Homo sapiens: one gene and its partner. The protein of the gene in region 1 purifies or fractionates together with the protein of each later gene. This does not show direct contact. Each region holds a gene or a part of one and is shown in the gene's direction. Other genes may lie near its edges.

Region 1 (2,971 bases):
GTATTTTTGATAGATACATACACCTGCCAGGCAGGATTCACAGTGGTTTGTGATTCTCCCCTGACTCCAAGACTCCAAGCCTAATCCCCGCCCCTGACCAGCTTCTCCTCTCTGAAGGGGAATGGACCCCCCAGCTGGTTGCCGGCCCAAGTGTGCAGAGCCGCGGTTGCGCGCTGGGTGGAGGGGTCCCCCAAGCTCCGGTGCTGGTGGGGCCCGAGGATGCTGTGTCCTTGCGGGCCTCCCTAGCGCTACGAGGACACCTCCAGGCGGCCCGCGGGGACAACAACGGCATTGCGGCCTACCACCTAAAGCTCCTGGGAGGACAACGGGGTTGCAGTCTAGTCGACTGTTCAGGGTGTCCCGGACTCCGGGCTTTAACAGTCGGTAAGGACCCAAACACCGCTGTCCACTGCCCCGACTCCCACCCGCAGAGGGCGCGACCAACCCAGCTCCTAGAGCCACACGCTGCCTCTGGGGGCTTGGCGCCCACACTCTCTCTGCTTGTCTTCCCCTGGCCCGAGAAGCCTGTCCAACCGGCCGAGAGCCATTTCCCTACGGGGTCTCGTCCCTCTGCACGTGCCCAGGGCTGGGACCCCAGACACAGACCTGCCCCGGACGAGGGAACGCACGGAGCTTCCCAAGATGGTTTGAATCAGTAACTGACGGCAAAAGCACGCTTGTGCCCGGCGTCTCTCCCAGTGCCCCGTGCCCTTGGGACCCAAAGTCCGAACCGGTAGCCGGGCGCGGTGGCTCACGCCTGGAATCCCAACACTTTGGGAGGCTGAGAATCGTTTGAGCCCAGGAGTTCGAGCCATTCTGGGCAACATAGGGAGACCCATCTCTGCAAATAATAATAATAATAAATAAATAAATAAATAAATAAATAAATAAATAAATAGCGGGCGCGGTTGCGCGCGTCTGTGGTTCCAGCTACTAGGGGAGTTGAGGTGGGAGGATCGCTTGGGCCCAGGAGTTCGAGGCTGCAGTGAGCCAAGATCGCGCCACTGCACTCCAGCCTGGGCGACAGCGAGACCCCGTCACACACAAAAAAACCCCTAGCTTCCTCTTCTCCCAGAATGCAGGAGTTAGGTGAGGACCCTCTGTTCCCTCCAACCCAAGACCTAGGAGTCCGAACACATAACGCCCTCCAGGCGGTGCCAGGATCCCCAGAACTGCTGTCCCCTCAAGAACACACGTCCCCTACGTGGGAGGCCGCGACCAGCGACTCCGCCCACTTCTCCCAGCCGGCTGTTACGTAACTGCAACGACAGCCAGTCAGACGCGGCAGCGCCGGATGGCGGGAGGCGGGAGTTGGAGGCCAAGGGAAGCGCTGGGCGGAAGTGGCTGTGGCTTTGCCCTTTGGCCTTTGCTGGCTGTGTGGCGGCTCCGCGGTTCGCAGGTCGTTCGCTGAGCGTCTCTGCTTAGCCGCGGTCATGAGCCGGCACAGCCGGCTGCAGAGGCAGGTTCTGAGCCTGTACCGCGATCTGCTGCGCGCCGGGCGTGGGAAGCCGGGCGCCGAGGCGCGAGTGCGGGCAGAGTTCCGGCAGCATGCGGGCCTGCCGCGGTCCGACGTGCTGCGCATCGAGTACCTGTACCGCCGCGGGCGGCGCCAGCTGCAGCTGCTACGCTCGGGCCACGCCACCGCCATGGGCGCCTTCGTACGCCCGCGGGCCCCGACCGGGGAGCCTGGCGGCGTGGGTTGCCAGCCTGACGACGGCGACAGTCCAAGGAACCCCCACGACAGCACGGGGGCACCGGAGACCCGCCCCGACGGACGGTGACAGGCGAAGAGCCGAACTCGCTCGATGGCGTGGTGGAGCCAGGAGGCTCGCCTGACTGCATGGGGGGACTGGGGAACCCGCCTAAGGTGAGAGGTCTTAAGAGACTAGCTTGACGAATTGGGGATGTCAGAGACTCCTCCTTGGCGACGCAGGGGGCCTAGAGAGCCCCGTGATGGACGGCAAGGGAGGCCCGCCTTTTCCGATGCTTGGAGACAGGTCGGTGCTCCTCCCCCATGAGGGCTTGGGGCGGCCTGGGACGCTGGCGGGCTGGACAGTGTCAAGCCAAGAGCTACTTGCCCGAAGGTACGGGGAGCCAGGACGACCCCCGGTGGACAGGGAGAGCCTGAGACGCCCTTCTCTTGACCCCTGAGAACATACCCACTTCTGGCTCCTCAAGGAGTCTCCCCTCTCCTGTATTTAACTCTGAGAAGTGCAGACTTTTTGCTGAGAACGTTTTGGGAAGGTGCCCTGATGAGCGGTGAGAAGCCCGGAATCCCCTTCTGGAAAACTTTCCCCCATTAATTGTGACAAGCCAGGACCATGAGGAAGGGGTAGGGGTCTATCACCCTGGTTGATCAACTGAAGACCCCCAAAGGCCCCTACTTGATGGTTTTGAGGGGCAACATTGACTCATTTGCCCCTTCCCTCTCGGAATGTTGGACAAAGGGAATAAAATTGGGGATATGTCTACTTCCCTGTTGGTGGTCTTAAAGCTTTTATATATTTCAGGATTTTTGAAACACCCCCAGCCCCCCTGCCACCACACACACACGCACACAGACACCTGGAAGGGACCATCTGGGAGGTGATAGGTGTGGGGATCTGACTCCTTCCGGAGCCCTGTAGACTGGCACATTGATTGAAGCGGCATAGTTTTCTCCCCTGGGCAGATCTGTGGAGGGGGCTCATCCTGGCTTAACCCCCAAAGATACCCCAGTTGGCTCCCTAATGGAGGGCAAGTGATTTAACATCTTTGTGTGGAAGAGGAAATGGTGGAGCTGAGAACTGGCTCGGAGCCCCTGAGGCAGTAGTGAGGGTCTCAGACCTGGAAATTTCTCAAACCTGGCTGAAGGGTCCAGCCTCAGCTACAGTGAACGACAAGGCCCTGGGGCAGGAGAGGGGAGATGAACCCCATAGATCACAGATATACTCCCTCCGGTGTCCCCATATGGGCCTGCCCTAGACATTCT
Region 2 (3,500 bases), on another chromosome or scaffold:
ATGGTGGCTCACACCTATGTAGTCCCAGCTACTTGGGAGGCTGAGGTTGGAGGATTGCTGGAGCCTGGAAGGCAGAGGTTGCAGTGAGCCAAGATCACACCACTGTACTCCAGCCTGGGCAAGAGAGGGAGGAGACACTGTCTCAAAAAAAAGAAAAAGTAAATTGTAGAACTGTCCACCTAAAGAAAAAAGTCAATTTTACTGAATGATCAATTTTTAAAGCATTATTATCAAAAGGAAGAGAAACACCAGCGAGCCTAGAAGCATTTGAGCAGACCCTCAAGAGACCCATAGCCTGGTCCTGTGGAGAGGTGGTGGGCGGGGTGGGGCCTGTTTGACTCCTGCATTTCATACATCCTACCTCCTGCATGTATTACCTGTTGAAGAAAATATATATAACGTTATAAAAAAAACTTAAAAACTTTTTTCAAGACATCGTAGAAACACAAGAGTTGCAAATCTTGGCTGTGCGCAGTGGCTCACACGTGATCCCAGCACTTTGGGAAGCCAAGGCAGGTGGCTCACCTGAGGTCAGGAGTTCTAGACTGGCCAACATGGTGAAACCCATTTCTACTGAAAATACAAAAAATTAGCCAGGTATGGTGGCATATTCCTGTAGTCCCAGCTACTCTGGAGGCTGAGGCAGGAGGCTTGCTTGAACCCGGAGATGGAGGTTGCAGTGAGCCGAGATGGTGCCACTGACTGCACTCCAACCTGGGCTACAGAACAAAATTCCATCTCAAAAAAAAAAAAATTGCTAATCTTGAAGTATAGTTGAGAGCACATAAGAGTCCAAATCAACAGGTGACTTTCAAGCACACAGCAGCCACCTTCCCCCCGCTGATGTGAAGGGTGGCCGGCCCCTTGGGACCACCATCTGGAAGGTGTCTCTTTTTTCCCTTAGTGGAGTGACATTTATATACACTTAATATATATAAATTTGTATACATTTAATTTTTTTTTTTTTTAAGACAGGGTCTCGCTCTGTTGCCCAGGCTGGAGTGCAGTGGCGCGATCTCGGCTCACTGCAACCTCCACCTTTAGGGTTCAAGCAGTTCTCATGCCTCAGCCTCCCGAGTAGCTGGGATTATAGACGCGTGCCACCATACCCAGATAATTTTTGTGTTTTTAGTGAAACGAGGTTTTGCCATGTTGGCCAGGCTGCTCTTGAATTCCTGACCTCAAGTGATCCACCTACCTTGGCCTCGTAAAGTGCTGGGATTACAGGCGTGAGCCACCGCACCCGGCCTACATTTAATTTTTTAATTTTAGAGATGATTTCTAGTTTATTCACTCTAAGATCACTTAATGGATATCTACTGTGTGCCAACAATTTTGCCTTTATGTTCTTTAAAATTGGCCCCAACTCAACAGATGGCCTCAGCTGTAGGGTGGGCTGGCAGTGTGTTAGCTCAGGAGACTTACAGAGTTTCCAAGCTCCTTGAGTGGCTGTGCTACATGTTTGTGTGTCATTCTAAATCCATTTGGTTTTTTAAAACGGTTTTCAAAAGTTAAATTCTAGCTTTTTTTTGTTTTAGGAGATAAAGTCCCTCCAATTAAACCAAACGCTGGGGAAGAATCTGTCATGAATCTTGACAAATTGAGATTTGCTGATGGAAGCATAAGAACATCGGAACTGCGACTCAGCATGCAGAAGGTAAGAGCCTGGACTCGCTCTGGAGTGAGCAGGAGGGCTGCATACCTGGCCCTGCACTGGTTTTGTTTTTTAAAAACTAGATCTAGGGGGATGCAGGTGCAGTTTTGTGTGGATGTACTGGGAGGTGGTGGAGTCTGGGCTTTTCATGTACCCGTCACACAAGTCGTGTGTGTTGTACCCAGTAGGTAATTGTTCAACCCCACCCCTCCCGCTTTTTGGAGCTCCCAGTCTCTGCTACTCCACTCCATGTGTCCATGTGTACTCACCATTCAGCTTCCACTTCCAAGTGAGAATGTGTGACACTTGACCTTCTGAGTCACTTCACTTAGGATAGTGACCTCCTGTTCCATCCGTGTGGCTGCAGAAGACATGATTGCGTTCTTTTTTTATGGCCGAGTAGTATTTCATGGTATATATGTACCACATTTTCTTCATCTGGTCATCCGTTGATGGGCACTTAGGTTGATTCCATGACTTTGCTGTTGTGACTAGTGCTGCGATAAATACATAAGGCTGCACCAGTATCTGGAGGTAAACAGCGGTAGGACGTACTCCTCACCGTATCAAGAATATGAAAGAGACCAGGAGGCCTGAACTATACAGAAGTGCACTTCTTTTCCACATAGAAGGTCGGCAGACTAGGGCAGAATTAGTGACTGCTTGGCATCCAGGACAGCCTTCTGTGGTTCACTCGTGTGTGCTTGGGTGTGACCTCCGTGACCTGACCATTGCTGGCTGTCATGGATGAGTCACAGCGTGGAGGAGAGGGAACTGCAGGACCGCTGGAGAAGCTCAGTCCCCAGCAGGGCAGCTTTCTCTTAGAGGTTTCCTGGAGTTCAACACAACACTGGTGCTTACATCTCAGGCCCGGATATCGATCATGTCATCATGCCTGGCTTCCAGCAGCTCGGAAATGTCTTTAAGCTGGACTTGTTGCTGCCTCTAAATATACTCGGAAGAGAGGGAGAGTGGGCGGCAGGTGGAAACTGATCTGTGGCCTGTGCTGCTGGGAGTCGGTCCAGTAGGACCATCTGTGATGATGGAAATGTTCCGAGTGTTTGCCATCCAGTATGGCAGCCATTAGCCATGGGGCCGTGGAGAACCTGATACATGGTCAGTCTAAGAAACTGAATTCCTCTAATAACAAGGATTCTTGTCCATGAATGAGATCTCTTGCCTACTATTTGCAAGAATTTCTGTGTATTTTCTAAAAAGTCCATTGCTTTAGTCCTATTCTGAAATAGGTGTCTAACACCTATGTGGTGTTAGACACAGGAGAACAGGTTCCCTGCTGACATTTTCAGAGGCCTGTGCCCTTCAGTCTTCAAGTGAAGCTGGGCTTCAGGGAGGCTTTGTGGAATGGTGAGAAGAACAGTGTGACTAAGGCACAGAAGGCTGAGTGATGCCCTGCAGTACTATTGTAGGGTTGGAGGCCAGCTGGGAAAGAAAGAACCATTGCATTAGAGAATGGGAACATGCCTTCGGATATAGAAATGGCAAATCCATGAGATAGTTTAAAGTGAGAATACTAGAAGCATTCCCACCAAACATGGTGTGTCTTGGTGCCTGCTGTATCCCAGGCTCCACGAGATGCTGGAGTCAGCACTGAACAAACAGAGTTTCCTCTGCTCGTGGAAATGCGTTCCGTTGGGGAAGGGATTTTTCTGCTGAGTCTGGCTATTCATAGTAAGAAGCAAAAAAAAGAAATGAGGTAAATTTTTGGGAACAGGCCCCCAAATGTGGCCCAAAACTGACCATAAACAAAATCTCTGCAGCACTGTGACATGCTCTTGATGGCCATGACGCCCACGCTAGAAGGCTGTTGGTTTACCAGAATGAGGGC

What was found.
Region 2: the proteins of SDHAF1 (region 1) and SDHA purify together in Homo sapiens (affinity purification with mass spectrometry; one large-scale study listed by BioGRID and IntAct). This does not show direct contact.

The regions. Positions count from the first base shown.
Region 1 is NC_000019.10:35,993,842-35,996,812, forward strand, and holds SDHAF1 (succinate dehydrogenase assembly factor 1, mitochondrial), read left to right. Parts: upstream 1-1,346; 5' UTR 1,347-1,433; coding exon 1,434-1,781; 3' UTR 1,782-2,471; downstream 2,472-2,971.
Region 2 is NC_000005.10:238,820-242,319, forward strand, and holds part of SDHA (succinate dehydrogenase [ubiquinone] flavoprotein subunit, mitochondrial), read left to right. Parts: intron 1-1,538; coding exon 1,539-1,657; intron 1,658-3,500. UniProt on the Homo sapiens protein: Flavoprotein (FP) subunit of succinate dehydrogenase (SDH) that is involved in complex II of the mitochondrial electron transport chain and is responsible for transferring electrons from succinate to ubiquinone (coenzyme Q).